Linked DNA regions of Homo sapiens. The protein of the gene in region 1 interacts with the protein of each later gene in a pairwise test. Each region holds a gene or a part of one and is shown on either strand. Other genes may lie near its edges. The genes, in order: CYB561, CMTM2, SLC19A3 and BIK.

Region 1 (8,073 bases):
GGAGGATCACTTGAACCACGGAGGCGGCGGTTGCAGTGAGCTGTCATTGCACTCCAGCCTGGACAAGGAGAGCGAAACTCCGTCTTAAAAAAAAAAAAAAGGTGGCTTAACTGTCCTCTCTGTCATGGCCTCTCCCTCCCTCTTGCCCCAGTGGTATTTGGCTCTTTTGTCTGTCTTGTTTTTCCCAGACTGACCAGCCTTGGGGTTAACCAGGGGCAGGGTGACAACTCACAGGCAATGACGTCCCTCAGCCTCCTTCCCCCCACACTCCAGAGGCTGCAGGTGACTCAGGGTCTTCGTCGGTGGCTCCGGAAGCCTTGCAGGTGCCCTGCCACATGGCCGCTGTGCTGCTGGCTGCTCTGACGGGTCCTGCCGGGGCTACTGCTTTCCTGTCCCCTCCCCCGAAGCTGGGAGATGGATTTCCTCCCTGAGTGATTAATTGGTCTATTTTAAGCTCATCAAAGTAGCCTCGTACTTTCAAGTTCCTCAGGGAGCAGGCCCGGAAGATGATACCTGCGGACTTAAGGCTGCTCCACTGCAGGATATGGGGTCGGGGGCTGTGTCTGTCAATTGTGAGGTCCCTCAGGGCAGGCCCCCTCCTGAGCTGGACAGGGCTTGGCTCCTGAGTGCTGATTCTGCAGGCTGTGGCTCAGTTCTGCACTATTACTCTGGCTCCGGCAAATCCTCATGAAAATAAGCCTGGGAGCCCCGAGGGTTGCAGGTTAGCCCCCTACAGCCTTCCCTTGCATCATCCTTGCTCCTCTAACCAGGGACACTCCTGCCTCCTCCCTGACTATCTCTGCCGGGTTAACACCTGAGCATCTTCTGGCTCGATAATTCTGTCATGACCCAATACGCCTTCCCTGACCCTCACATCTGGGTTGAGGGCCTTCCTATGCCCTGTACCTAATCCTGGTTTTCCCTCTGTAAGGTGGTCAGAGATGGGCTTGGGCAGAGTAGTTTCAAAGGCTCTCCCCAAATCTCTGTGCAGCTCCCCTGACTGAAGGCCTGTGAGAACAGGGTGGTGCCTGTCTTGTTCACTGTTCCCCAATACCTCACCTAGTGCCTGGCACAGAGAAGGTACAAAAATAAAACTTTCCCAAGAATGAATGGTGTGCATTTGAATCTTATAGTGTCTGAGGACTGGGGAACCATCTCTTATCCCTTTGTATCCTCTGCTGCCCAAGGTCAGGGCCTCTGCCTGAAGTCCCTACTGAATGAGGGTTAACTGGTTCAGAGATGAGGGAGGAAGCCATTGCTGGGAGGGGCTAGAACTGGGCCCCTGCCCTTCCCACACCCGAGCAAGAGCAGTAGGATTGTCAGATGAAACACAGGACATCTGCTCACATGTGAGGAATACATCTTTTTTTTAAGACAGATTCTCTCTCTGTCACCCCAGGCTGGAGTGCAGTGGCATGATCTTGGCTCATTTCAACCTCTACCTCTTGGGTTCATGCCATTCTCCTGTCGTAGCCTCCCCAGTAGCTGGGATTACAGGCATCCACCACCATGCCTGGCTAATTGTTGTGTTTTTAGTAGAGACAGGGTTTTGCCTCATTGGCAGGCTGGTCTTGGACTCCTGACCTCAAGTGATCCGCTCACCTCAGCCTCCCAAAGTGCTGGGATTACAGGCATGAGCCATGGCACCCAGCTGGAATACATCTTTAGTATACTGCATGTAATATTTGGGACATGCTCATGCTGAAAAAACTAACTGAATTTGAATTTTTTTTTGGTTTTCTTTTTTTGAGATGGAGTCTCACTCCATTGCCCAGGCTGGAGTGCAGTGGCACAATCTTGGCTCACTGCAACCTCCGCCTCCTGGGTTCAAGCAATTCTCCTGTCTCAGCCTCCCAAGTAGCTGGGATTACAGGTGCCTGCCACCTTGCCCAGCTAATTTTTGTATTTTTAGTAGAGACGGGGTTTCACCTTGTTGGTCAGGCTGGTCTCGAACTCTTGACCTCAGGTGATCCACCCACCTCGGCATCCCAAAGTGCTGGGATTACAGGTGTGAGCCACCGCACCCGGCCTGAATTTGAATTTAACTGGGAAGCCTTTTTTTATTTTTTCCTCTTCTTTCTGAATCTGGTAACCCTAGCAAGGGAGAAGTGACTAGCCAGGTGCCAGGTGGGTCTACGGCCTGAGTCTCCAGCTCTCTATTCACATTCTGCCTGCTTCCTTGATGCTTCCTCCTCCTTAAATGCTTTCTGTCAGAGACCAGGGGGCACTCTAGGCCTGGCTGCCCAGCACGCGGAATCCAGGAGCACTCCTACCTCCTAATCCCTGCCCCAGCTGCCCTCTGGATGGTCAGGGAAGGCCTGAGGAGGTGATGTTTGAGCTGAGATTTGAGAGAATGTGACCAGAGATGATCCAGGAAAGAACATTCCATGGAGAGGTGGGAGTGAACTTGGTGCATCTGAAAACAGAAAGGCTAGCGTGGTTCTGCGATGTGGGAAGGGAGTGGAAACATGGAAACACAGTCAGCATTTCCTTTTTTTTTTTTTTTTTTTTTTGAGACGGAGTTTTGCTCTTGTTGTCCAGGCTGGAGTGTAATGGCGCGGTCTTGGCTCACCACAACCTCTGCCTCCTGGGTTCAAGTGATTCTCTTGCCTCAGCCTCCGGAGTAGCTGGGATTACAGGCATGTGCCACCCCGCCCGGCTAATTTTGTATTTTTAGTAGAGATGGGGTTTCTCCACGTTGGTCAGGCTGGTCTCTAGCTCCCGATCTCAGGTGATCCGCCCGCCTCGGCCTCCCAAAGTGCTGGGATTACAGGCGTTAGCACAACTCAGGAGGCCCTGGAACTCATCTTGTGCCACTCAAGAAAGGGCAGGAGGGGTCCTCTCCTTTCCCACCTTTCCCAAGCTGAAGGACTGCACACTTCTCAGGCTTCCAAGGCAGGAGCTTCGGCAGCAGGAACAGGGTTGCAAGGTAGTTAGTCTGGGTGTCTGTCGTCCTGGGTTGGGACATCTGGGAGCTGGGGCAAGGCCTCTGGGCCCTAGTGCCAGAGAGCAGTTTGGTGGCGTTGCCTGTTCTTTAAAATGGGTTAGGTGTAGCCATGAGCCCCCCCATGCAGCGGGTGTGCAGGCCTCTCCCTCAGTCAGAACACCCTCACCCACCCCTCCCCACTTGAAGCAGGCCCTTGAGAACACTGCTGGCAGGGAGGCGGCTGCTCTTCCTCCTAAGGGAAAAGCCTGCAGCCCCGTGCTGCTGGGCCGTGGGGTGAGGGGGAAGCCAAAGGGCCCCTATCACCCCTCAGCAGGAGTCTCTCCTGGCTTTGGAAGGGGCTGAAGGCCCGGGGCTCTCACGAGGGAACTCAGCCCTGCTCAGCCGGTCAGGACTCCTCCTCCACGTCTAAATCCACAGACCAAACAAAGGACATGGCTCAGTTCCACCTTCAATCCACAGGGATTCTGCCTGTTAGCACGCTAAGGAAACTGTTTCTTACTTTAAATTATCCATTAATTTCCTCCAACTGAAAGATACTCTACAAATTTTCTGTTGTTGGAGGGTTTAAGCTTGGTCCCTCTGAGGGGGTGGGCCCTGCTGTGTCGGCCCCTTGTGTCTGCTCGTGGAAGGTGTGCCATGTGCCACCGTGTGCCATATGCAGCTGACACGCCTGTGCGTCTCGCCTGGCGCTGGAGACTGCTCTCTGTGTACTAAGCGAGTACTGGATCCCCAGGGCCTATCTTGCCCACTGCCTGTGGCAATACACAGGCAATACACAAAGCGCATTCAAGTAAGCAGGTCTCCCTGCCCCCCGGCCTCCCAGAACCTCGGTGCCTGGAGGGCAGGTGGGGGAGGGCGTTCCTGAATGGAGGCCGGTTTCCCTCTGCGGGGAGGAAACCCCATTTCCCTCCTACCCCTAGGCGCTTGCTACATCTGGCCCGGCATCAGACAGGAAAGAACCCTTTCTTCCCAGCTTGTAGGAAGTCTGAGCTGGGCCCCTTATCTACCCACAGCACTTCCTGGACCGGGGGCCTGGACCGGGCTCCGAAGGGGCTGGCTCCCGGTCTTGGTCTTGGCCTCGGCGCCCTCGTTTCTCTGCGCTTTGGGCAGGGGAAGCTGCGGACGGCAAGCTCTCGGCTTTCGTGAGAGCCTGGTGGAATCGGTGTTCCCCGAAGGCTACTCTGCGGGGGCGGGGGCTAGTCCGGGCCTTCCCGGCAGTATCGTCTCCCCCGTGGGGGCTGGGGAGGTGCCCCCAGGGCTCCCGGAGCGGCGGCGTGGCCAAGGCCCGAACCGGGTCTGACATCTAGTGGCCTCCTGGGCCCGGGCAGGGCGAGGGCGGGGCAGGGAAGAAGGTGGAGGGCAGAATGGGAGGCGTGGAGCGAGAAAATCAGGAAGCGCGGGACCAAGCCGGGGAAGGGCGGCGGGTCTCGCCCCTGGCACCCGCTCTCCTCGGGGCCCGTCCCATCCCCCAGGCCTGGCCGACCCCAGGTCCTTCCGTGCGCAGTCGGGGCTCGCAAGGACGAATCCCGCGGCCCTCGAGGCAGGCCCGGGGGAGCTCCCGGCCCTCCACCCCCGCAGGCCGCAGATCCCACGCACCCCCGATCATGGGGGCCCCGGAGGGAGGTCGCGAGGCCGGGCTCACGGTGGCCGCGGTTCGCCCACGTGCGGGCCCGGAGCTGGCAGGGCCCGGTCCCGAGCGTGGCCGCAACCGCGGGGACCTGGCACGTGCGGGGCAGCCCCGGGGGCCGCGTACGCCACTTCCGGTCCCGGAGACACCGCCCAGCCCGCCGCCCGGTTGCCATGGCGACGCCGTCGCGCCACGGCCCGCAGAACCGGCCAAGCGACCCGGGCGCGGCGCGGGGAGGCTGAAGGGACGCTCGGGTAGGCAAGGTAGGAGGCCGGGCTGGGGGTGGGAGCGGAGCGCGCAGGGGTGCGGGGCGGGGGCGGCCCAGGTGAGCCCTGACTGCGCAGGGAGGGACAGCGCGGGGCTCCCGAGTAGCAGCCGGCCTCGCACCTGCCCCTTGCGGCCGCGCACTGGACTGCGGCGCCGACCCGCACCCTGGGCCCGAGGGCTGCAGGGCTCGCCCGCCCTCTCGGAGCCGAGCCTCTCCCGGTCCAGGCGGCCCCTGCCCTGGCCTGCCCGGGTGCCGGGTCTCTGCTGAAGTTAGAACCGAGACCCCCGCTTGCTGGTGACCCCGAGTTTGGATCTTTGCTCCTGCGCCGCGTTCTAGAGCAAGGTAGGGTGCAAATGGACCAACCAGCCTTTGCCACGGCTGCCCTCTTGAAATCTGAAACCGGAGCCACCGCCTCTTGCCCCGAGCAGGGCCCGGGCTGCAACGTGGAGCCGCAGGTCCCCGCCTGTGTCTCCCGACGCCCCCAGCTTCTGAGCGCGAGGGTGGGAGTTTCCCGAGTGGGAAAGCCCCATGGCTTCGGTGGCCTCGGTGGCCCTGTGGTGGGTCAGGCCGGTGCCAACTGCGCTGAGGGCGGAGCTGCCGCCACCTTGACACCTGGGAGATGGCAGGGCCACCCTCCCTCCCTCCCTCCCTGCCCTGTCCCCGACTGTATCACGGAGCGAGGATCATCCGTGTGGATCTGGGGTCCCCTTCCCAGACTTCTCCTTTCTGGTCGTCCTCCTCTCATTCATTCCACCTTGGCAGCCTTTGTGGATTTTCTGACTCCGTAAATGAAGTTACATCTAGGGCGCCTAGATTCTGCCCCTTTGGTTTAATAGCTAATGAAAAAAAAAAAAAAAAAGCTTTGCCACCTCCTCTAGGTGCCTGGATTTCTCCCGGTGAAATTTGATGGAGGCAGGAAAATACGAGGCGGTGGCAGCCCCACCTCCTTGCATGAGGGAGCCTCCTAGAGCTGGAGGTGGAACCACCCTGCTTGTCCCACTCCTTTTCTTTCTTGCTTTATTGCTTTCTTGCTTTCCTTACTTTCCTTCCTTCTTTTTTTTTTGAGATGGAGTCTTGCTCTGTTGCCAGGAGGCTGGAGTGCAGAGGGCAATATCAGCTCACTGCAACCTCCATCTTCCGGGTTCAAGCGATTCTCCTGTTCCAGCCTCCCTAGTAGCTGGGATTACAGGTGTGTGCCACAACACGCAGCTAATTTTTGCATTTTTAGGAGAGACGGGGTTTCACCATGTTGGCCAGGCTGGTCTCGAACTCCTAACCTCAAGTGATCTGCCCGCCTTGGCATCCCAAAGTGCTAGGATTACAGACGTGAGCCACCGTGCCCAGCCTTGTCCTACTACTTTTCTGCCCTCACCACTTTTCCTTGGCAGGCAGAGCTTGGGCTCCTGCTAATACTGGGATGGTTCAGTGGCATTAGATGGCATTGGTGGAGGGGAATGAGAAATTAACCCCCTCTGAAAGCGTAGCTTCACTGGGAAAAAGCACTCTACTGTCTGAACAATTCATAAATGAATTTTGGGAATATACAATGTCACAGATTAAAAGCAGACCATCCTGTGTTCTTCCAGCCCCAGGAGCTTCTGCTTGGTGTGCAGGGGCTAATGGTGGACAGCAATGGAGTGTAGATTTATTAGAGACGGCTGCCATCTGGCTCTCTGTGGCCCCAAACCTCATGTGTCAGCAGTGTGACTCTTTCTAAGGTGCTCTTAGGACCAGATTTCGTTTTTGTAAGATTGGTCTTTGATGGAATGCCTACTTTGTGGCAGGCACTGTGCTGGGCGCTGGCACACCTTTATCCACTTACTCCTTCTGTGTTCAATAAGGTAGCTCCAGATATCCTCCACTTTATAGATTAGGAAGCAGGCTTGGAGAAGGGACTTGGCTTGTCCAGGAGCTGATGGTTATAAATAATGAGTCTGTTTTGAAATCACATCTCTCTAACCTGGGCTGCGCTGGGCCTTTCATGGGCCGTTGGCCCTCTGGCCTTCACGGGCCCCGTCTTCCATAAAAAAAATAATAACAATTGGCCCGGCGCAGTGGTGAAAGCGCGTCTCTACAAAAGATACAAAAAATTAGCCAGGCATCGTGGAGCACGCCTGTAATCCCAGACTCGGGGAGTCTGAGGCAGGAGAATTGCTTGGACCCGGAAGGCAGAGGTTGCGGTGACCCGAGATCTTGCCATTGCACTCCAGCCTCAAAAAAAAAAAAATTAATAAAAATTATATTTTACAACTGCATTGGTATAAATACAAGTATAGTCCAGACTGGATTACAATTAATTTTAAAAACAAAACATTTTAGGGCTGGCTCATGTCTGTCTGTAATCCCAGAGCTTTGGGAGGCTGGGGCAGGAGGACTGCTTGAGACCAGGAGTTTGAGACTAGCCTGCACAACATAGTGAGACCCTATCTCTCCAAAAAAAGAAAAAATTAACTGGGCATTTCAGCATAGCTGTAGTTCCAGCTACTTGAGAGGCTGAGGTGGGAGGATCCCTCGAGCCCAGGAGTTCGAGGCTGCTGTGAGCTATGATCATGCCATCGTATTCCAGCCTGGGTGACAGAGGTAGACACTGTTAACAACAACAACAAAAAAATTAATTAAAATAAGTTTTAAAAAATTGCAACATTTTCCTCAACCCTAAATGTTCATTTTTTTCTTCTGATTTTCATGGAAATGGAAACATTTTGGTTTGTAAGCATTGGGAGCCCTCTGTCTTGTGGGAGAAAGGAGCTCAGTGTTTGACTTCAGGCTCTGCTGCTTCCTGGGTACCTAGTTCCTTGGTACCTGGTCCAAGCAGCCTGGATACCCCGGGTCCCTGGGCTGCCTGGGCCAGGACAGCCGCCCTAGGATAAATGGAAATGCAGCCCCTGCGGCTTGTTCACCCTCCTGTAATGCCTTCTCTCTTACCCTTTGGTCAGGGCCTGGTGTCTCTGCATGCACCAGGGCTTAGTGCCATGCTGGTACAAGCGTGGGGAGGATGCAGGAGGACTGGCATGGGATGGGGAGCACTGCCTGGGAAGCCCCTTCTTCCTGGGGCTACTGGGGTGCTAAGAAAGTACCCTAATAGCTCACACCACACTTTGCTTTCTCCTTCATCACATGCTAGGACGCTCTAGGGCAATTGAGCTGTTTTCCCCTTCACCCATCAAGAAGAGATATCGGCCTTTCCGCAGTCACAGTCTTTCCTAACTCAATTCAAACTCTGCTGTTGAT
Region 2 (8,045 bases), on another chromosome or scaffold:
CACTGCAAGCTCTGCCTCCCGGGTTCATGCCATTCTCCTGCCTCAGCCTCCTGAGAAGCTGGGACTACAGGCACACATCACTGTGCCTGGCTTCTTGACACCTCTTTTATTATTTTTTAGACAGGGTCTCACTCTGTCACTCAGATTGGAGTGCAGTGGCACCATCAGAGCTCTCTGTAGCCTTGACCTCCTGGGTTCAAGCCATCCTCCCACCTCAGCCTCCTGAGTAGCTGGAACAACAGGCATGTGCCACCATGCTTGGCTAATTTTTAAATTTTTTTGTAGAGACAGGGTCTCCCTATGTTGTCCAGTCTGGTCTCAAACTCCTGGACCAAAGGGACCCATCCACCTCAGCCTCCCAACGTGCTGGGATTACAGGTGTGAGCCACCACACCCAGCCCAACAACCACTGATGGATGTTCTCACTCATTGTTCTGTCTCAATCTCTTATTTTCTCTCTCTCTGTGTGCTGTGTTCTGGGTAATTTCCCCATACCTTTCAGTTAACAGTTCCCTCCTTCAGCTATGTCTGATCTGTTTTTGAATTCATCTATTGACATTTTTATTTCAATAACTATATTTTCTATTCTAGACACTGTACTTTTTAAAAATCTGTCTATTTTGTCCTCATAGTGTCTTACTCTTTTCTCAGGACTCTTATGTCTATAATCCCTTAAAATATATTATTATTTTCAGACAGCTCTTCTATTATCTCATATTCTCAGGATTCTAATCCATTTGTTGTGTTTGTTGATTCTTAGTAATGGGGATTTTTTAAAATCAGGTGTTTAGTAGTTTTGAATTATTAGTTCATTTTTGACAAGGTTTTCCCCCCACCCCCACTGTGAGAATCTCTTCATGCCTTGATTGTGATTTTGCATTTGTTTCTATCAGGAGTCCAAGGATATCAGCAGAATGTCATCAGACTGGGATCAGTTTTTATGGTAATTCCCAGGGATGAAGGTTTCTGGGCTGCATGAAGGTTTCTAGGCTGCAGATAACAAAAATTCAAACTCCAATCTGTACAAAGGGCAGGCTTAAGCTTTCTATTTCTCAAGGAAGACTTCCTCTCCGCCCACTCAAAGCTCAGGCAGAGATGAACATGTTTTCTTATTCCTCTGTGTTGGGAATAAGAAGGGTATGTGTCTTTGTCCATCTTTTCCCTAAGGAGGTAGTCTTTCCAGGGCGCTGGCTTTATACAGGGTTTTCAGTTCTAAATTCCCACTTTGCTTAGGATCAAGGCCTTATTTCCTGACTTGAGAGTGCATGAAAATCCAGGCTGTAGGTTCCTGAGACAATACCTCTTGGACCATTCCCACTCATACTTTGTAGCTTATGTGATCACTGCCCTGTTTGCCATTTCTGGCGCCTGTGTGTTTTCATTTCTTTTTTGCCAGCTCATTCATTCAGTTAAAGCAATACTGGTTACATTTCCCCTGGTATTTTTAGGTAAGCACAGTGGGAAGATGTTCAGGGTTCATTGGTTTTTCATCTTGCTGGAACTAAAAATGTCTTCTCAGGCTCCTTGTTTAGGAACTTGTCCTCTGCCTGTCCTTTTACCTTGTCCTCTGCTTGTCCCTTTTCTGAGAGTCCTTATTTGGCCCTCCTGTCCTTTCTCCCTGTATCGGAGGTCCTCATCTGCTTCACCAAGACCTCTGGATCCCTGGACCCTAATAGTTTTTAACAAGAAGGCAGGATGAAATGTACTCATAAAGCTAAGTTTGAAGCTTTTTTCTGCTACTTACCAGCTGAGTGACCTGGGGGCAAGTTACTTGGCCATTCTAGGCCAATTTCCTCATGTGTAACGTGAGTGAAACAGTGAACAAGAGGGCTCTGGAGGCAGGCTGTGAATGTGCAATGAACAAAGGGACTTGGGAATTGGGGTCTTCATTGACTGGCAAGGGGTTAGGTGGTTGTGCCCTGTGGTTAAACAGGTGATGGGCAGGGATTCAATTCCATGAGTCCTCAGGCACGGTGTCAAGCAATTTACATTTAATCCTCAGGATTGAATGTCAGTTCTGCAAGGAATGTGACTGTCTCATGTTACAGATGAGGAAACAGGCTGGGAATGGTTTAGTAACTTGCCCAGTTCTGTCTCTTTCCACTAGATGACTGCTTTGGGCTGAACATCCTTCTGATCCAAACATCCTTTATAGGGATATTCACTGGAGACCTAACGCTGCTTTAGAAGTGATTTTTAAAAAAAATTCCCATTTTGTTTTATTTTATTGACTTATGGGAGAGTAATTTTCTTCTTTGAATTTTGGGAATGGGGTCCTTCTGGGGTGATCTCCTGTCAAGTGTGAGCTGGCACAGGAGTTCGGAGGAACAGCTGGTTGCTACACCTCCCCTTCCCCTAAAGAGAACAAAGGCTCAGGCCCTCTTTGACCACCAGGTAAGTAAGAGTTCCCCACTCTCACTCCAACACACAGATAGGCTTTTTGGAGCATTTTCTGCCTAGCTACCCCTCTTGCACCCAGCTGCCTCTGCCTGGGCCCCACTGATGTTCTGAGTCCCTGACCCAGGCACAGATATGGGAGGTGAGGTGTGTCTCTCTGTTTGGTGACTTTCCAGGTGCCAAGACACACCTGATCAGCATTCTGGATGCAGGCACTCCCCATCACCCCTTACTTACAGAAATGGGCCACAGGATGAAGGGTATGTATCTATGAATGGCAAAGCTGTACAGTAAGATGAAGAAGCTGAAGAAGGATATCTCCATGGTGATGATAAGCCTCAAGATGGGGTGCACGGTGAGTGAGGACAACAGTATCATTGCAGCTATTAGGCAGCCCTGCAGTGAGACATAGACACCTGAGCCAGCAGCAAGGGCCTTTCACCATCTCTCTGAGGACCCCTGGAGCCTACTCCTCCTTCCCCCCACCCTCGGCCAAGGCCCCCCACCCAGGGATACCAGTTTAGCTCACCAAACTCCGAATCTTGATCTCAGCGTGCCCCAAGAGCCAGAACTCTTTATTGCTGTCTTTTAATTCCCACCGGTAGCGGCGACACCCCCTCCTCGTGCCCACTTCGTGCTTGGGCTGCACCGCCTTTTGAGGTTTGTCCGATGGCTCCTTATGGTCCTGCACCGCCTTTTGAGGTTTGTCCGATGGCTCCTTACCGTCCTTCTTGTCTTCCTCGGGTTTGGCCCCGGGTGGAGGTGGAGCTGGTGCTGGCTCTGGCTTGGCCCCCTTTGCCGCCTTAGGTGCCATGACTGACTCGGTGTCCTTGGCTTCTCACAGCTGGCCTGTTTCTTCTCTCTCCTGCTGTTTCTGGGTAGGCCAGGCCTACTAGAGTGCCTGGTGTCCACCGAGCGGCTCAGAGGGCGTGCTCAGCTAACTGCCAGGACCACCGAATGCCAACTCCCGCGCCCTCTCCACGCGCGCCCGTCTCCTCGCGCAGCTCCCATCCGCCCGGCAGCGGCCGGATCCTCCCACCCTCCACGCGCCGGCCCCCGACGGGCCCCAACTCCGTTCCCAACCCGCCGGTCCCACCTCCGCGCGGAGCTGCCCTCGCGGTCCCATCCCGGCGTCTCCAGGTGGCCCCAGGTCTGTAAGCCGCCGCTCCGCTGCGGGGTCGGGGGGCTGCGAGCACCGGGTCACGGCCCTGAGCTCCGCGGGCGCAGCGCCAAGCGCAGGAAAATACAACGCGACTTTCACACAAGGCAACGAGAGGAAGCAGGTGTTCTCGATAAAAGCAGCAGCCCTAATTTTATGGTCACATTTAGGCTGGAATGGGTGACAGCATGCGAGCTCGGGGGTGGGCTCGGAGGCAGCGATTCGACAGACACGTGCATCTGCTAGGGCGCCGGGCTGGCTTCAGGCGGGCCTCTGCGGGGCGTCGGGGCCGGTTTCGGGGTAGGCGTCCTTGGCGGGGGAAAGCTTCCTTTCAACTTCGACTCCCAGGAATCTTTTCAAGTTGGTCCTCATCTTCGTGGTGACCACAAACGCATCGATGCAACACACGATTACCGCTGTGAGACACAGGGACTGTCAGATACAAGACCATATGCGGGAAGGAAAGACGGGGTTATTTTGCAGCTCAGTAGCAACCTCTCGAACCTATCCCTATCCAGGGTGGGCGCTGCGGGTGGCCTCCTGTCCCCTCTGACCCTTCACTACTTTCTTGGCGCCTGCCCAATTGGCTGCTGCAGGCGGATTCTGCCTTTCCCAGAAAAAGGGATTTTGGAAGTGGGGGATTTTGTTGCCAGTAGTAGCCTCGCTTGATGTCTGAGGCACCCGGAAAGGACTAGGGAAGGGCAGTGGCCCTAGGTGGCTGCAGGTAGGGGTTAGGTCCTGAGAAGCCCTCTCCGTGGAAAGACTTTTGGGCTATGTTTGCAAAGGGCAGGAAGGAGTTCCTAAGGGGAGGAGGAGGACCCAGGCACTGGACTAGGGTCTCTAAGGAATCTGGTGTGGCCAGGACCTCCAGAGCCGCTGAGAAGGGGGCAGAGTTGAGGCTGGAGAGGTGCAGGATCTGGGACTCTATCAGGAGGTCAGGTGTGAGATTCAGAAAACCTGCTTGCAGTGTTCATGAGGTGAATGGAAGGTGAACCAGGCTGGAGGCAGGAAGACCAGTGCGTGGTGGGGTGGGATGCTGCCATCCAGGTAAGAAATGGATACCTGGGGGTGGGAACCCCTGGCAGTAGAAGGAGTGATAGCGGAGTCAGCCGATGGGGACCAGGGGCTGATGGCACAGATATTCCCCTGTGCACTCCGGGACTCTTGACAACCTTGGATGTTTCTCTTTATGGTCACTTAATTCCTGGCTGCTTAATGAGCTTTTCCTAGGTATGTCTTGCCCCAGTGAATCTGTGAGCTTCCCCAAAGGGGAAAGGGCTCTATCCCCAGCACTGAGCTCATGTCTGGCACAATCAATGGGATTGACAGATATTTATTGATTATAGAATGAATTCAAATGAACTCTTTTTCTGCATTAATTTCTGTTCTCATTGTTTAACTTCTTGAACCAAAGCCCTACCTCCCCTCCCAACCCCCTGAATCTTCCAAGCATTTGATCTGCCATTTCTTTTGAGTCCCAATTTGTCCCAGTCTTGTGGCCCAGAGCAAGGTATTTAACCTCAGTTCCTATATCTGTACAAATGAGAGTTGTAAAGATTAAGTCAGAGTGTGCCCTGCTTGGTGCAGGGCATATACTGGGCACTTCAACATGTGGCAGTTTCCTTCCTTCCTTTCTTCCTTCTTTCCTTCCTTCCTTCCTGAATAGGCTGGATTCCTCACTTTAGACAGTGCACTTTTCCCCCCTTACAATCTCTCTTATCATCTGTCTTTAAAATACAATTCTCTAGTCCAGAAAATCAAAGTCCTATTTATAGACAAAAAGATCTTGCTTAACATTTCAAAAATAGTGTCCACAATTCTCAAAAGGGGTTTAGCAGACTCTTGTTTTTGTACCTATTTGGAGAATGCATGTTAGAATTAAGATTTTCATGAGCTCAGAGTTTGTGCAACTTCATATCACCTGAAGAAGTCAGTGCAAGAAGGAGAGTGGGTGGCAGTGGGGATTTTGCTTGGTTAATGATATAATGGGGTCTGCCAATTTCCCTTTTCAAAGTCTTGGAATACTGATCTTAAATGGAGTCATGAAGGCCTCTACTTACCCCCCCGACATAGAGTAAATGCCTTCTTTTCTTTTCTTGCATGGCCAAGATGGCAACTACTGAAAGGAACACAGCTGTAATGATACTGTTGGTAAGATCCTGTAATAAAGAATTGAAAATTATCAAGTTTACACAACAATATAATTTCACAAATATTTAAACTGGTCAATTACACATCTAAGAATAGATGCCTTTAAAAAACCTTCCATTTGATTAAGATGAGGAGGAACCTTCAGAGGCATAATTCTTACATCGTCCAGAGACATGAGTTTATGTGGTTTTAAGATCCTAGATATGACTTTGTCTGTAGAAACGGGTTTATTTTCATTAAAGAATACCATTAGAAAAAAAGCTAACAACTTTTTCCTTAAAGGGAATAGGAAAGTGAGCATGAAAAAACCTGGTGGTCAAGGGGCCTATCCCAAATTGGCCCTCCATAAATGTGATTTTTTTTGGGAAGTCTTATATTTTTTAATGTAAATTCTGCATTCTATTCCATAACTCATTTGTTTTAATATAAAAATAAAATTTTAGATGAGCACTTTAATTATTGGTTTACTTCTTCTCCCAAATCTGCAGGTAAAGCCAACGCTCTGGAAATTGGGCCACATTTATTCTGTGAGTTCATGTGTCCCAAGAGCATATGAACTCATCTGAGGAGCAGGCCTGATATTCTGGAGTGAATGTTTTTTGCTCTTTCCTGAAACATGGCCAGAATTGGGTGTGCCCCGACATCTGCAGGCTCATTGTGCTCCTTCTTCTGGGTTTCAATTGGATTTCAGTCCTGAGTTCTTTTTTTTTTTTGAGACAGAGTTTCGCTCTTGTCACCCAGGCTAGAGTGCAATGGTGCGATCTTGGCTCATTGCAACCTCCGCCTCCCAGGTTCAAGCAATTCTCCTGCCTCAACCTCCTGAGTAGGTGGGATTACAGGTGCCTGCCACCACACCCAGCTAATTTTTGTATTTTTTAGTAGAGACAGGGTTTCTTCATGTTGGCCAGGATGGTCATGAACTCCTGACCTCAAGTGATCCACCCGCCTCGGCCTCCCAAAGTGCTGGGATTATAGGCGTGAGCCACCGCGCCCGGCCAGTCCTGAGTTCTTTAACTGCTAGCCCAACCTGCTTCTTTGTGTGCTGAAATGAATAGTGAGGATGAGTGCGTGGCAGTGCCCTCCTGGGTGAGCAGTGGCTGGGTTTCCTTAGCAAAACAATAATGGAGGAACGAGTACACAGTGTGTCAGTGGCAGCAGTGTATGGCTATGGGCAAAAGCCCAGAGGACATAACCACAATATGGGCCAGAGAGCTAATCTGAATAGCTCAAGTCTTTGAGTGTTGATGGTCTGCCTTGGTAATGGCAGCCTTTCTGGCACACTCGTCCAAACACAGCAAGAAGCACTGCCATCCAGTGTATGGTATCATGGAATCACAGTGGCTCCAATGGAGCTCTTTGATGTGTCAAGCATTTCCCAGTCCATCATTTAACCTCATTTAACCCTCACAAAGCAGCCTCCAAAGTCAGAATTGCCATCATCCCCAGTTTACAGAGGACATGGTGGAGGCTTGGAGTTTTTCAGTTGCCTAGGATTGAATAATGGGTGGAATCAGAACTCAACTCACTATTGCCTCCCATGAGGGACACCCAAATAAGGAGGAAATGAGCTATTCTCCCAGTCTGGAAGTGCAGCATCCAATCCATCTTTGGCATTTTCTGTGGAATGGGTCTGGAGGGTCAAAATGATACAGTACCAGTCAGTTGAGTATTTTTGTTGATGAACTCTTTTGGCCTGCCAATTCCTAGATTGGGCGTATTTTATCACCCATCTGCCAACTTGCTAATTTGTAATATGGGGATAATGACTGAGGTTCATTGGCTCTGAGGATTAAATGGCATAATGAATCTGAAAGCATCTGATAACATGCCTGGCATCTAGTAGCTGGTGGGAGTGCATCAAAATGTAGGTTCATATCTGCCCTCAAAATGTTAACAGATAGTAAACTCTCTGCAAACTCCAGATGTTCTTCCTATTGGGGCTGGCGACCGAGGAGCCCTCTTGTGGAATGTGACTTGCCTCTTGGAAAGGCACTAATGCCTACTGTTTTGGTGCCTGGTAGTTAATGCTGGAACAGGGGTATGTAGCAGGGCTGGTGGAGGTTGGAAGTAAGTCCCAGCTGGGTTCTGCAGGCTGAGCGAGAGGTCTGCCCATAGTGGGCAGGCCTGACTGAGGCAGGTACAGTGGTTTGCAGCTTTGCAGGAAGCTTACACCTGAGGATTGTATAAACCAAGGTAGTCAAAGATGTGAACAAGGATTCTTACAACTGAGAAGCAGAGTATAAACTTCAAAAGTCAAATATTCTTTTTTAAAAATTGCTCTCTGTTGGCCAAAATATCTATATAACCGGAGCTCAGTTTCTCTGACCACTAACCAGCT
Region 3 (7,726 bases), on another chromosome or scaffold:
CTAATTTTTGTATTTTTAGTAGAGACAGGGTTTCCCCATGTTGGCCAGGCTGGTCTCGAACTTCTGGCCTCAAGAGATCCACCCGCCTCGGCCTCCCAAAATGCTGGGATTACAGGCGTGAGCCACCGCCACCGGCCTCGCATTTCTTTATAAGAAGTACAACAAGAAAATGCACTGACCTAACTGCAAAATTACCCTGGGCTGATTTTACAATCTCCAGCCTTAGCCTTGAAAACACTGTGTAAAGTGTGTGGCTTCGCCTGCAAGGCTGATGGGTGCCTCGGGTGGTGAGGTGGCAAAGACAGAAAGGCAAGCTTCTTCTGTAGCATCAGATCACTTAGGGACAACCCTGTTTCCGAGTTGCTCAGGTTGAAGCATGCCACAATTAAGACAACAAAGGACAGATGCAGGGTCAGAAGCAACTCAATGAATCCACTGGGTTCTGCTTCTCGAGCCACTGTGGACCAGTTAACAGACCTTCCCTCCAAGGAGCAGCTCAGTTGTGTGGTCTTTGCTCTGTGGCCTCCTGCTTTCTCCAGCAACCTCAGTGATCCAGGTGTCAAGGTGGGTACGTTCAGTGATTTGAGAGGCTGCGGCACTCACCCATCCCTACAGATCAGCAACTCCAGTCCTTCCAACTGTGAAAATTGAGATCCCATGCATTTCTGACTAAATCTGTGAGATGATCCATATTAAATTGAGCCATAAACAAATCAGCAGAATTGTTAGGGGGAGCAGGGGGAAGGTTGGGAACCTAGCAAATTTGCCCATGAAGGAAAATGAGATACATTATTTGCTTCCACTCTATAATGTGGCAAAGTTATTTACTCTTTCCCTATTTTCCCATATCTTTCCAGATGTTGGAAGGGCTGAAATATTTGATGTAGTGATAGATCACATGAAAATAAAGGCTGTTGGATTCTTTTTGTTGTTGTTGTTCAGATGGAGTCTTGCTCTGTTGCCCAGGCTGGAGTACAGTGGCACAGTCTCGGCTCTCTGCAACCTCTGCCTCCTGGGTTCAAGCGATTCTCCTGCCTCAGCCTCCCAAGTAGCTGGGATTACAGGTGTCTGCCACCATTCATGGCTAATTTTTGTGTTTTTAGTTGTAGACGGGGTTTCATCATGTTGGCCAGGCTGGTCTCGAACTCCTGACCTCGTGATCTGCCTGCCTCGGCCTCCCAAGGTGCTGGGATTACAGGTGTGAGCCACCATGCCTGGCCTGGATTCTTTTAACATTGTGGTCTACTTGTCTAATGTTAATATTCAAACAAGAAGGAAATTATATTTTTTAAGAATCTTGGGCCGGGCACGGTGGCTCACGCCTATAATCCCAGCACTTTGGGAGGCCGAGGTGGGCGGATCACCTAAGTTCAGGAGTTCAAGATCAACCTGATCAACATGGTGAAACCCCGTCTCTTCTAAAATACAAAAATTAGCCAGGCATGATGGCGGGTGCCTGTAATCCCAGCTACTCAGGAGGCTGAGATGGGAGAATGGCTTGAACCTGGGAGATGGTGGTTGCAGTCAGCGAAGATCGGGCCACTGCACTCCAGCCTGGGCAGCTGAGCAAGACTCCACCTCAAAAAAAAAGAATCGGAAAATCTTAGAAGTGTCCAAAAACTTTTTAACTCATCTACTCAACTGTACATACTATCTAAACTTAATACATAATTCAGATTGCACAATAAGCCAATATATTTTTCTGCCGGGGTTTATCTAAGTGTGTACATTGGTTTTTACCAATGGGAAAGGAGACTATCTTTTCTTGTGATTTCCTTGAAAATCAGTTTTCTCATTATGTTTCTCCGTAATGCGAATAATTTCCAATTGGAGGCAGAATTTGAGATACAAACCACAGGTACCTTAGTAAAGTACCGGTGCTTCGTGGTCATGCAATTTACCAACTTTGCAGATAACAAATGAGATCTTCCCCGTTTGGACATACTCCTACCTGGTGCTGCTGCTGCCTGTGTTTGTCCTCACCGATTATGTCCGCTACAAGCCAGTCATCATCTTGCAAGGTATCAGTTTCATCATTACCTGGCTGCTGCTGTTGTTTGGCCAAGGAGTGAAGACCATGCAGGTTGTAGAGTTCTTCTATGGGATGGTCACCGCCGCCGAGGTGGCCTACTACGCCTACATATACAGCGTGGTCAGCCCCGAGCACTACCAGAGAGTGAGCGGCTACTGCAGGAGCGTCACGCTGGCCGCCTACACAGCAGGGTCGGTGCTGGCTCAACTCTTGGTATCCCTGGCGAACATGTCGTACTTTTACCTCAACGTCATATCCTTGGCCTCTGTCTCCGTGGCTTTCCTTTTCTCACTTTTCCTACCAATGCCCAAGAAAAGCATGTTTTTTCATGCAAAACCCAGCAGAGAAATAAAGAAGTCATCAAGCGTGAATCCAGTATTAGAGGAAACTCACGAAGGTGAAGCACCAGGCTGTGAAGAGCAGAAACCCACATCAGAAATACTCAGCACTTCAGGGAAGCTGAATAAGGGCCAGCTGAACAGCCTGAAACCAAGCAATGTGACTGTGGACGTTTTTGTGCAGTGGTTCCAAGATTTGAAGGAGTGCTACTCCTCAAAACGTCTTTTCTACTGGTCTCTATGGTGGGCTTTCGCCACAGCAGGTTTTAACCAGGTTTTGAACTATGTTCAAATCCTGTGGGATTACAAGGCGCCATCCCAAGATTCTTCCATCTATAATGGGGCCGTAGAAGCTATTGCAACCTTTGGAGGTAAGCAAATGTCACTTAATCTTCCTTTGTTGGCTTTACCCGCTTAAGTCCATTCCTCCAGGTACCGAACTTCATGGCAGCGAATTAGCTCTGTTCAGAAGGAAGCATAACTTTTTTCAGTCAAGAATGAAAGTCACGGCCGGGCATGGTGGCTTATGCCTGTAATCCCAGCACTTTGGGAAGCTGAGACGCGTGGATCACGATTTCAGGAGGTCGAGACCATCCTGGCTAATGCAGTGAAACCCCGTCTCTACTAAAAATACAAAAAATAAAATAGGTAGGCGTGGTGGCGGGCACCTGTAGTCCCAGCACTTTGGGAGGCCGAGGCTGGCGAATCACGAGGACAGGAGATGGAGACCATCCTGGCTAACACGGTGAAACCCCATCTCTACTAAAAATACAAAGAAATTAGCCGGTCATGGTGGCGGATGCCTGTAGTCCCAGCTACTTGGGAGGCTGAGGCAGGAGAATGGCATGAACCTGGGAGGCTGAGCTTGCAGTGAGCCTAGATCGTGCCACTGCACTCCAGCCTGGATGACAGAGCGAGACTCCTCTCAAAAAAATAAAAATAAAAATAAAAAGAATGAAAGTCACTGGAAAAATAAGAATACTGTGACTTTCTATTGTGTTGTAGTTACAAGTAACTTTTTTATTTTTTGAGACAGAGCCTCACTCTGTCACCAAGCTGGAATGCAGTGGTGCGATCTCAGCTCACTGCAACCTCTGCCTCCCAGGTTCAAGCTATTCTCCTGCCTCAGCCTCCTGAGTAGCTGGGACTACAGGCACGTGCCACCATGCCCAGCTAAATTTTTTTGTATTTTTAGTAGAGACGGGGTTTCACCATGTTGCCCAGGATGGTCTCAATCTCTTGACCTCATGATCTACCCGCCTCAGCCTCCAAAAGTGCTGGGATTACAGGCGTGAGCCACCACGCCCAGCCACAAGAAGTAACTCTTAGGAGCTCAGGGATTAGCACCAAACAATGAAATTCTAGTTGAATCCCTAAGATTCCAATTCATCATTAGCACAAAGGTTAATAACATGCCCTGTTCTTTTAGGATTATTTTTAATATCAAAATATATACATATATGTGTATATGTTTTCATTATTTTAGAAAATAAATTAAGGATTCCAAATTCTCACTGAGGGTTTTGTTAATACAGGATTTGAACTAGCTAGCATGCACCTATAACAATTCTAGGCTATACACCAACAACTTTCAAAAGCAGCTTTCTCATGGTATTTAAATGAGGGCTGGAAGAGATGTGAAAGTCAGGATTTTAATATCAGAGGGAAATCTGTCTTTGAAGTTTAATCTACAATAAATGTTTATTTCCTAGTAACTGGAAGCTTAAATGTCAAATGAGACTTTGAAGATATTTTTTAGGAAGTGAGAATTCGCCCCACCCTCATTTACAAAAAGTTTTAGAAAACCCGTGTGACCTCTATTTTATTATTATCTCCCTTTTGGGAAGCTTCAGTTTAACTCCTGGAAACCAGGACTGTGCCAGAATTGCTTCACTGAAATTATTGCTCCTACATTCCAAATCCATGGGGGGAAAAATAGTTATTTTTTTTTTCCTCTGTGGTCATGATCACATGTGGGAAAGTTAGTCATATGTCAATGTAGTAATTTGAAATCTAAATACCTTTTGTTTATTTATTTATTTTAGACAGAGTCTTACTCTGTCACCCAGGCTGGATTGCAGTGGCATGATTTCAGCTCATTGCAAACTCTGCCTCCAGGGTTCAAGTGATTCTCCTGCCTCAGCCTCCTGAGTAGCTGGGATTGCAGGTGCCCGCCACCATGCTGGCTAATTTTTGTATTTTTAGTAGAGCTGGAGTTTCACCATGTTGGCCAGGCTGGTCTCTAACTCCTGACCTCAAGTGATCCACCCCCTTCAGCCTCCCAAAGTGCTGGGATTACAGGAGTGCGCCACTGTCCCCAGCCCTAAATACCTTTTACCTTTGTTAAAGAGAACCACACAAAAGTGCTAACCCTAATTACTGTCAATTATTTCAATTTCTTGAACTCTGTAAGTCTATATAGATATTTTCACCCAAAGCTTCTCAAGTAAATTATGTCAGATGTTGAAGACTTTAGAGTGGAGATTGGAAATAAGACTAAGATTACTAAAGGTTCATAATAAAGACTAAAACTGGGTAGGGCAAGAAAAAAGACTAAAACTTTCAATGTAACACATCTGATACTCATCACTGAAAAAGACTTACAGCAAAAACTGAGAAAAGAAAGGCAAATAGAGAGGCCAGTGTATTCCCAGAGAATTTATTTCATCCTTTTCCATCCCTGCATGTTGTACTGAGTGACTAGGTTAATGTATCATTTCTCCTTACACTGCTGTGGTTAGGAACCTTTCTGGCCCCTCTGCAGAATACAGTGTCTGGCGTGTAGTTGATGCTAATTAAAAGTATGGTGACTAAGTGACCGAAAGAATAGCAAGTGAAAAGAAAAGCCAAAAGAAGACACGCTTGAGAAAAGGATAGATCCACATTCAGGTCGATCACACAATTTTGTGAAAGCAATATATTTATCTTTCAGAATTACCCGAGACCTGGGTTTTTAAGAGAGGGTGTTGATATTTTCCTGCATGCAAAGTCATTATGTTTGATTGCCTTCAATGTTTTTTTTCAGGGGCTGTGGCTGCCTTTGCAGTGGGTTATGTGAAAGTCAACTGGGACCTTCTGGGAGAGCTGGCTCTGGTGGTCTTCTCAGTTGTCAATGCCGGTTCTTTATTTCTCATGCATTACACAGCCAATATCTGGGCGTGCTATGCTGGCTATTTGATATTCAAGTCCAGCTATATGCTTCTTATAACCATAGCAGTGTAAGTTTTACCAACCACTCCTAAAACTGAACTGTATTCCTCTCTCTTCTGTCTTTCTAAACTTTCTCTAAGAACTTCAGAAGGATTTTAGTCAATTGCAATATTAAATGTTGACTGCTTTATATTAAATTAGACACAACTAAGCCAACTTTTCATTTAACTATTTGCTCTCTGAATATTGCTACAATATACCTTAAGTCATCAAGGGAAAAAACTCTGTAGGTTTATAGACCAAAAGCAGTGATACATTGTCAGGTTTTTCTTTTTGTTTTATTTTGTTTGAGAGATGGCCTGGCTCTCTTGCCCAGGCTGGAGAGCAGTGGTGCGATCACGATCAGGACTCAATGCAGCCTTGACTTCCCAGGCTCAGGTGAGTCCCCAACCTCAACCTCCTGAGTAGCTGGGATGACAAGCATGTGCCACCATGCCTAGCTAATTTTTCGTATTTTGTAGAGATGGGGTTTCACCATGTTGCTCAGGCTGGTCCCAAACTCCTGGGCTCAAGCGATCCACCTGCCCTGGCTTCCCAAAGTGCTGGAATTACAGGTGTGAGCCACTACATCTGGCATCATTGTCAGGATTTGATTTGTTTATTTCCAGCAACTTTCTACATAAAGTGTGATGTGATCTGCTTTCAAATGGTTAGGTTTAGATTTCATTCCTACTTTCATTTGTTTGCTTGAGAAATTCTAAGCACATACTTTTATGACACAAAAGATTCTCAGGAAAGTTATTAAAAAGTTGGATACTAAAAAAAGTAGATGCAAAGATAACAAGAAACCTTTAGCTGCAGTCGTGTATGGAACCAAGCAGTTTTTCTTTTCTTTTGTTCTTTTTGAGACAGGGTCTCACCCAGGCAGGAGTGCAGTGGTGCAATCATAGCACACCACAATCTTGATCTCCTGGGCTCAAGCAGTCCTCCCACCTCAGCCTCCTGAGTAGCTGAAACTACTGGTGCACACCACCATGCCTGGCTAAATTTTTAATTTTCATTTTTGTAGAGACAGAGTGTCACTGTGTTCCCCAGGCTGGTCTCAAACTCCTGGGCTCAAGTAATCCTCTGGCCTCAGCTTCCCAAAGTGGTAGGATTACAGGTGTGAGCCACCACGCCAGATCTAGTTTTCAGTCATTTTCTAAAAATAATTTCTGGGATTTAGAATTTCCCGTCATTTTTGCTTCTACTTTTTTCTCAGAGATCTCTTTAAGAAAATGATTAAAAAACCATTCGGTTTCATATAAAAGTACAGCTAAAGCTGACTACAGAAAATATGCTTTGCTATTAACCAAAAAAAATGAGAAACATTTGAATTTCAAATTGCATGAAAGAAGTGGAGACAAAAGCTTCATCAAGTTTTGCTTTCAATTTGTGAAGAATGTTTTATAAACAATTTACAACACAGAAATATGAGCACTCTGGGAAAAAATCATCAAAGGAAAAAACAATTAGTTGGTATGTTTATTTTCTTCATGGAAATGTCTTAATTTAATCAGAATCATGTATCTTAGGTTGCTTTTTTTTAAATGTGAAGATTTTGTTAAAGTAGGATTATATCATTTCTTTGCATTAAAAAAAAATATTCACGGCTGGGCACAGTGGCTCCCGCCTGTAATCCCAGCACTTTGGGAGGCCAAAGCAGGTGGATCACCTGAGGTCAGGAGTTCGAGACCAGCCTGGCCAATATGATTAAACCCCGTATCTACTAAAAATACAAAAATTAGCTGGGCATGGTGGTGAGAACCTGTAATCCCTGCTACTGGGGAGGCTGAGGCAGGAGAATCCCTTGAACCTGGGAGGCAGAGGTTGCACATTCTCATCAGCATTTATTGCTTGTTTTTTGGATAAAAGCCATTCAAATTGAAGTGAGATAATATCTCATTGTAGTTTTGATTTATAATTCTCTTATCAATGATGTTGAGCACCTTTTCATATACCTGTTTGCCATTCGCATGCCTTTAAAGAAACATCTGTTCAGATTTTTGCCCATTTTTAATCTGATTATTAGACTTTTTTTCCCTGTAGAGTTGTTTGAACTCCTTATATATTCTGGTTTTTAATCCCTTGTCACATGGGTAGTTTGCAAATTTGTTTTTCCATTCTGTGGGTGGCCTCTTTCCTTGGCTGTGCAGGAGCTTTTTAA
Region 4 (7,726 bases), on another chromosome or scaffold:
GCTAAGGCGGGAGAATTGCTTGAACCCAGGAGGCGGAGATTGCAGTGAGCAGAGATGGTGCCACTGCACTCAGCCTGGGCTAACGTGAGACTCCATCTCAAAAAAAAAAAAATTACGTCTTGTGTCACAGAGCTGCAGATAAACCAGAGACTACTCATAACCGTGTACTTTTTTTTTCCCCCATTTCTGATCCCGTCTCAACGGAAGGATGTAATTGAGGAAGGGCTTGATTGGCCAGTGAGTCTTGAAGCTGACACCACTGCTGGTGGTATTTTCCCCTCTCCCTGGAAAGCATCCTGTTTTTAGTGAACCTATTAAATGTGTAGACAATTAATGGCTTTTTGCTTCCCCTGCTGCAGACTTAGCGGATCCCATGAGATTTTGACTACCGTCTGTGCTCAGAACAGTTTGAGCCGTATGGAGGAAGTCTCCGCACCAGTCTTACTGTTGGTGGTCACCAGGAAGCCAGCAGTGTGTCTGAACTGGACACATGTGGCCACTTCCTAGCCTCCCTTTGTCCTGCCACTGGTTGGTTGGGGCTGGGCCCTGGGAGAAACATAGAATGTGAGCAAATCAGTCCGTGGCCCCTAAGTTCCTTGTTGGCCCCGAGGCAGGCAGGAGAGGGGCGGGCACACAGGGCAGCTGATTTTCCTAGTGTCAATATTAGGATGTGACAATACAAAACACCACTGGGCCTCGCCAGGCACTGCATGGTAAACCTGTTTTTCTGGGGGTGGGACAGAACTTGGCACCCAGTTAGCCAAACTGAAAAGCCATGCAGCAAAGAGAGAAAAGCTCACTTGTTTATTTGAGTGAGGGTCCCTGTCATTTTGGATATTTAAGATCAAGTATTCTTGACCGCCCCCTCCCCGAGATGGAGTCTTGCTCTGTTGCCCAGGCTGGAGTGCAGTGGTGTGATCTCAGCTCACTGCAACCTCTGCCTCCCGGGTTCAGGTGATTCTCCTGCCTCAGCCTCCCGAGTAGCTGAGATTACAGGCGCGTGCCACCACACCAGGCTAATTTTTGTATTTTTAATAGAGATGGGGTTTCACCACGTTGGCCAGGTTGGTCTTGAACTCCTGACCTTGTGATCCGCCCGCCTCAGCCTCCCAAAGTGCTGGGATTACAGGTGCGAGCCACCGTGCCTGGCCAAGAGATGACATTTATTGTGTGTGACAGTATCTTCGAGATTAGAGGCTCCCTTTCATGTGAGGGCAAAGAGAGCTACCTGATTCCAGGAGGAGCTGAAATTCCCTGTGCAGACAATGGCGCATCATGAAGATAAATCCGAGCTCGGACCGTGAGGTGGTCAGCACGGGTGTGCGCCTCGCAGAGCAACAGGCTCACAGAATGAGAGCTGCCTCTTAGTGGGCACTTACTGCATACCATGCATGCAGCATTTCACCTCCTTCTCAGGGCTACATCTGCCCATGGGGCTTTCCCTCCTGCCCTTTAACAGAAGGTGATACTGTCCAGTCCAGGGTCTCCCAGCCAGGAACAGCCTGCCATCGTGAGCCCAGCACCAGAGTAACCCCTTCCCTCATTCTCAGGATTTTGCAGTGAACTCTCAGGCTGTCTGCATCCTCTCACCGGCTTTCACTGGGTCCCTGCTCTGTTCTGGGGCCATGCAGGTTCCCGACTGGCTGGGGCAGACACACAGGTAAACATTTAACGAGACCTTGATGGGCTGAGTGCCCAATCCAGGTCTGTTTACCCAAGGTGCTGGGACAACACAGATGAGGAGCATTTAATTCTGTCCTGGGGAGGGTGGGGAGGAAGTGACTTGTGCCTGAGCCCCAAGGAAGCAGTGAGTCCCCCGTGCCTGCCTGGGGGATGTTGGTAACAGAGGGAGGATGTAAAGGAGGAGCTGGGGTGTGAAAGGGCTGGGTGCAAGTTCATAGGGGAGACCCAAACACTGAAGTGGAGCCCAGGGGCCGTACCTGCCTCTCAAGCCTCAGGGTCGGGGCCAGGGTGAGCAGTCTTCATATTCTTCAGCCTCAGCATTTCAGAACTTGTTTTATTTTTTTTTTGAGATGGAGCCTTACTCCTGTCGCGGGGGCTGGAGTGCAGTGGCGCGATCTCGGCTCACTGCAACCTCCACCTCCTGGGTTCAAGTGATTCTCCTTCCTCAGCCTCCCTAGTAGCTGGGATTACAGGCGTGCGCCACCACGCCTGGCTAGTTTTTGTATTTTTAGTAGAGATGAGGTTTCGCCATGTTGGCCAGGATGGTTGTGAACTCCTGACCTCAGTTGATCCACCTGCCTCAACCTCCCAAAGTGCTAGGATTATAGGTGTGAGCCACCGCGTCTGGCCTATTTTTTATTTTTGATTGAGTCTTGCTCTGTTGCCCAGGTTAGAGTGCGGTGGCACGATCTTGGCTCACTGCAACCTCTGCCTCTCAGGTTTAAGTGATTCTCCTGCCTTAGTCTCCCGAGTAGCTTGGACTACAGGTGCCCGCCACCACGCCCGGCTAACTTTGGTATTTTTAGTAGAGACACTGTTTCACCATGTTGACCGGGGGGTCTTGAACTCCTGACCTTAGTTGATCCATCTGCCTTGACCTCCCAAAGTGCTGGGATTACAGGAGGGAGCCACCGCGCCCCGGCCCAGAACTTGTTTTAAATATGAACTTTTGAAACTTAACAACTGTAGGCCCAGGTGGTGGCTTGGCATTCTCTGCTTCCTTCATGGTGATAAAAAGGCACAGGCTTCCCCTTTTTGGGGTCATTTCAAAATCAGTCAAGAGAATTATTAGTCTGTTAGACTTCCTCTACGGTTAGGATTATTTTTATAGGTGTTCGAACAGGAAAGGACATAGAATAAAATCTCCTCCCCTAACTTATTGATACAGGGTCTCACTCTGTCGCCCAGGCTGGAGTGCAGTGGCGCAGTCACAGCTCACTGCAGCCTCAACCTCCTGGGCTCAAGTGATCCTTTCGCCTTGTGCTCTTAAAGTGCTGGGAGCCTCCAAAAGGCTAAGCTGTGACGTTGGGTAGGTTACATGTATTAAATGCATTTTTTTTTTTTTGAGACAGTTTTGTTCTTGTCACCCAGGCTGGAGTGTAATGGCATAATCTCGGCTCACTACAACCTCTGCCTCCCAGGTTCAAGTGATTCTCCTGCCTCAGCCTCCCGAGTAGCTGGGATTACAGGCGCCCACCCCCACGCCCGGCTAATTTTTGTATTTTTAGTAGAGACAGAGTTTCACCGTGTTAGCCAGAATGGTTTCGATCTCCTGACCTCGTGATCCGCCCGCCTCGGCCTCCCAAAGTGCTGGGATTACAGGCGTAAGCCACCGTGCCCGGCCTGGTGAAACCCCGTCTTTACTAAAAATACAAAATTAGCCAGGTGTGGTGGCGTGCACCTGTAGTCCCAGGTACTTGGGAAGTTGAGGTGGAAAGATCACCTGAGCCCAGGGAGGTGGAGACTACAGTGAGCCATGTTCATGCCACTGCACTCCAGCCTGGGTGACAGAGAGACCCTGTCTCAAAATAGTAATACTCCATATTGGGCCTCTCACAGGGGAATCTTGGGGGGAGCTGCAGCTCAGGGTGACTCCCATCTTGTCACTAGCCAGGTGACCCCTTCATTCTGGAGCCTTAGCTCTGAAAGCCGCAGGTGGGGGTGCCGTTTCAGATGCCCCTTTTCCATTTCAAAGGCTCTGATTCTAGATCTTGAAGCCGGATGCGGCACTGGCACTTGGCTTCAGTTTCCACTGTGACGGACGGAGGTCTCCCAGGCCCAGCCCAGGCAGCCAAGCCCATCCTGGAATCAGAACACGCTGAGCACATTTTGTAGGGTGGCACCTTTTTATCCAAGTTACTAGCTACACATCAGTGTTTAAAGAGAAAAAAGTGAGCTGTCTTTTTTTTTTCTTGAAACTTGAGGAAACAAGGTACATACTACGGATTTTTTTTTTTCTTTTTCTTTTTTTTTTTTGAGACAGTCTCACTCTGTCGCCCAGACCGGAGTGTGGTGGCATGATCTCGGCTTACTGAAAGCTCTGCCTCCAGGGTTCAAGCCATTCTCCTGCCTCAGCCTCCCGAGTAGCTGGGACTACAGGCGCCCGCCACCACGCCCAGCTAATTTTTTTTGTATTTTTAGTAGAGACAGGGTTTCACTGTGTTAGCCAGGATGCTCTCCATCTCCTGACCTTGTGATCTGCACGCCTCAACCTCCCAAAGTGCTGGGATTACAGGCGTGAGCCACCGCGCCCGGCCCATATTTTTTTTTTTTGAGATGGAGTTTTTCGCTCTTGTCGCCCAGGTTGGAGTGTAATGGTGTGATCTCGGCTCACTGCAAACTCCTCCTCCCAGGTTCAAGCGATTCTCCTGCCTCAGCCACCCGAGTAGCTGGATTACAGGCGCGCACCACCACACCTGGCTAATTTTTTTTGAAACGGGGTAGAGACGGAGTTTTATTACCATGTTAGTCAGGCTGGTCTTGAACTCCTGACCTCATGATCTGCCCACCTTGGCCTCCCAAAGTGCTGGGATTACAGGTGTAAGCCACCGCGGCTGGCCCATTTCATATATTTTTAAAATTTTTTATTGTTAATTTATTTTTAGAGAGGGGGTCTCGTTGTATTGCCCAGGCTGGTCTTGAACTGGGCTCGTGCGACGTGCCCGCCTCGGCCTCCCGAAGGGCTGTGATGACAGCACAGCGGTGCCTGTGATCTATGGCTTCAATTTTTCAAGGCTGCCAGGTCCATGCAGGGGTGTGTGTGGGATGCATCCCTAGAAATCAAAGGTCATGTGCGTGTGTGACTGGTGGATGCTGATGGTCACACTACCCTCCAGAAAGGCAGCAACATGTTCAGTCCACCGTGGCGTCCTGAGCTGTGAGTGGCCTCTGGTCTCCTCTCTTCTAAGGCTGTTGATTGTGTTAACCAGCTTTTATGGAGCCCCTGCTAGGTGGTGGAAAATGGGCAGTAGTGTATGTTTTCATCCTCTCAGCAGCCCTGGAGGCCCGGCTGTTTCTGCAAGGCTCAGAGGTGAGCTGGTTGTTCTGCCTCACACAGCAGGGGCCGAGCAGGGGGTGGAACTGAGGTCCAGCCTGGCTGCAGGCTCAGGGCGTTTCCTGCTGGGTTACACTGGAGTTGTGTGCGCTCCAAGGGCTTTGTGCCACCCCACCCTCATGGTCCAGGGCCAGGCTGTGACTGGGAGGGTGGCACGTGGAAGACTGGACCAGGGTTTTCTAGCTGGGCCCACTCAGCTGGCCCTCCCTGTGACCCCAGCGTGGCCCCTGACCCTCTCGGTTTGCCTGCCTGTGAAACAGGAAGTGTCAGATCCCGCCTGCTTGGCTTTGACAGGACTGGGCGAGGTCATGAGAGTCTGAGGGTCCCTACCAGGAGTTCGACCTCATCCTCAGGTCCAGCCCCATCCACCTCTGCCCCCAACCCCGCTCTGACACTCCTGCAGCCTCGGCCCTCGAACACCTGCTGAGGGCTGAGCAGAACACATCTCTACTTGCTTGTGCTTCTGGGCAACCTGGGAGGGGCTTGGGAGGTAGATGGCGTTTCCCCATCTTCCAGATGAGCCATAGGCGAGCTGTCGAGTGCAGAGCTGTTCACCAAATGTAGGCTGCTCTGTCCAGAACCTGCCCTCCCTCCCACTCGGAGCCCTGCAGGTGCCCTCAAGGCCGTGGGTGTGGTACTCTTTTCTGCACATACTAGATTTGCATCCTAACCTCTTAGGGTAAAATAGGGCTTCTGACTGGCGCCTGGTGTTTCCACTGGTGAGTGTGTAGGAGGCTAAGTGCGGGCTGTAGCCTGGGTGGGGACACATGGCTAGGTGTGTCTTCCTTCACCAAAGAAGGGTTTCAACTACTCATTTGCAAGTTTGCTGGAAAAAAAAAGATAATAAAAACCAGTCCAGTTTCCTGTATCTGCAGCTGCAGTGACCTCACAGTGGGTCCTCTGGGAATAGGTTGCCTTCATGTCTTCAGTCAACAAACATATGTCTGCTCTATGCCAGGCCTTGGGCTGACAACCAGAAACTGATAAGAGCAGCAGCCCCTCTCTTAGCGGTTTACTCTGTGCCGGATCATTTCATCCCCACAACAGTCCTGTGCAATAGGTGTTACTAGTATCTCCATTCTAATTTTTTTTTTTTCTGATATGGAGTCTTGCCCTGTAGCCCAGCCTGGAGTGCAGTGGTCAGCTGGAGCCAGAGGGGAGCAGAGACAGGGGCTGCAGGACCCCCAGGAGGCCCCCAAGCAGACTCTGAGGGTCCAAGAAGGTGATGCCCGAATAGGCCAGCCTCATACCCATCCTCTCAGTACTTTGGGAGGCCCAGGCGGGAGTTGAAGCCAGGAGTTCCGAGACAAGCCTGGGCAACAAAGCAAGACCCTATCTCTACAGCAATTCTATAAAAATGAGCCAAGTGCAGTGGTACATACCTGTCGAGTTACCCTGGAGGCTGAGGTGGGATGATTACCTGAGCCCAGGAGTTTGAGGCTGTAGTGAGCATGATCAGGCCACTGCACTCCAGCCTGGGCAAACGGGTGAGACCCTGTCTGTGAAAAAAATAATAATAAAATTTAATTTTTAAAAAAGGACCAATAGGCGTAGGCATGGGCCGGTCTGAGGTTGGCTGGTGAGCTCTGCACATTTGAAGACTTTGGAGGCATGGCAGGACCAGGCACCATCCATGGAAAGCATACTTGAGTGTGGTTAGCGCGGGAACCAAGATTGGGGTGGCAGGGCCACAGGGGGAGGGCCTGTTAGTGGATGTGGCACAACCCCCCACTTGTTTTTGAGACAAGTCTTGCTCTGTCACCCAGGTTGGAGTGCAATGGCGCGGTCTCGGCTCACTGCATATTCTGCCTCCTGGATTCAAGTGATTCTCCTGCCTCAGCCTCCCAAGTAGCTGGGATTATAGGCGAGCGCCACCACACCTGGTTAATTTTTGTATTTTTAGTGGAGATGGCGTTTCACCATGTTAGCCAGGCTAGTCTCAAACTCCTAAGCTCAGGTGATCCACCTGCCTCCACCTCTCAAAGTGCTGGGATTACAGGCGTGAGCCGCACTGCACCAGGCCAGGTCTAGGGAGCCGAACAGAGCAGTGACAGGGTCAGGGTTGAGGCTGCTACCTTGAGATTAGGTTGGAGAGAGCTCCACTGAAGGCTGGAGACCAGTAAGGCATTCAGAGCTGGTGCCAGGTAGGAGCTGACAGGACTGGGCCTCCCTTGGGCTGGTGGGGTGGCCAGGAGAGACCAGAGCAGGAGGTCGCTGCTGCAAGGACCCTCCTGGGCAGGCTCCCCACCTTCCGCTCCCTGGCTCCACACTTTTCCCATGCAGATCTGGGCCCTAAGGCCAGCCTAGGCCCAGTTGGTGATGGGATCTTTGCCATTCATATCAAGTCAATCTGAGGGCCTGGGCCCAGAGGCCAGATGGTTAAAGGTTCAGATTAGGTCCCTTCTTTGTGGTAGAGGGTAATGGGTATTTAATAAATTAATCCAAAGTGCTGTAATCCCAGTACTTTGGGAGGCTGAGGCGGGTGGATCACTTGAGATCAGGAGTTGAGACCAGCCTGGCCAACATGGTAAAACCCCGACTCTACTAAAAATACAAAAATTAGCCGGGTGTGGTGGCATGTGCCTGTAATCCCAGCTACCTGGGAGTCTGAGGCAGGAGAATCACTTGAACCTGGGAGGCGGAGGTTGCACCTGAGCTGAGATCACACCACTGCACTCCAGCCTGGGCAATAGAGTGAGACTGTCTCAA

What was found.
Region 2: the proteins of CYB561 (region 1) and CMTM2 interact in binary tests that used the Homo sapiens proteins (3 or more experiments, as listed by UniProt).
Region 3: the proteins of CYB561 (region 1) and SLC19A3 interact in binary tests that used the Homo sapiens proteins (3 or more experiments, as listed by UniProt).
Region 4: the proteins of CYB561 (region 1) and BIK interact in binary tests that used the Homo sapiens proteins (3 or more experiments, as listed by UniProt).

Annotation. Positions count from the first base shown.
Region 1 is NC_000017.11:63,443,009-63,451,081, reverse strand, and holds the start of CYB561 (transmembrane ascorbate-dependent reductase CYB561), read left to right. Parts: upstream 1-4,775; 5' UTR 4,776-4,837; exon of another isoform or gene 4,838-5,184; intron 5,185-8,073. UniProt on the Homo sapiens protein: Transmembrane reductase that uses ascorbate as an electron donor in the cytoplasm and transfers electrons across membranes to reduce monodehydro-L-ascorbate radical in the lumen of secretory vesicles.
Region 2 is NC_000016.10:66,574,774-66,582,818, reverse strand, and holds the start of CMTM2 (CKLF-like MARVEL transmembrane domain-containing protein 2), read right to left. Parts: upstream 3,357-8,045; 5' UTR 3,212-3,356; coding exon 2,927-3,211; intron 2,794-2,926; coding exon 2,635-2,793; intron 1-2,634. Other genes in the region: CMTM1 (CKLF-like MARVEL transmembrane domain-containing protein 1), read right to left, coding at 3,818-3,988, 5,617-5,715; CKLF-CMTM1 protein, read right to left, coding at 3,818-3,988, 5,617-5,715.
Region 3 is NC_000002.12:227,693,751-227,701,476, reverse strand, and holds part of SLC19A3 (thiamine transporter 2), read left to right. Parts: intron 1-368; exon of another isoform or gene 369-426; coding exon of another isoform or gene 427-564; intron 565-1,912; coding exon 1,913-2,741; intron 2,742-5,395; coding exon 5,396-5,588; intron 5,589-7,726. UniProt on the Homo sapiens protein: Mediates high affinity thiamine uptake, probably via a proton anti-port mechanism. Has no folate transport activity. Mediates H(+)-dependent pyridoxine transport.
Region 4 is NC_000022.11:43,113,450-43,121,175, forward strand, and holds part of BIK (bcl-2-interacting killer), read left to right. Parts: intron 1-7,726.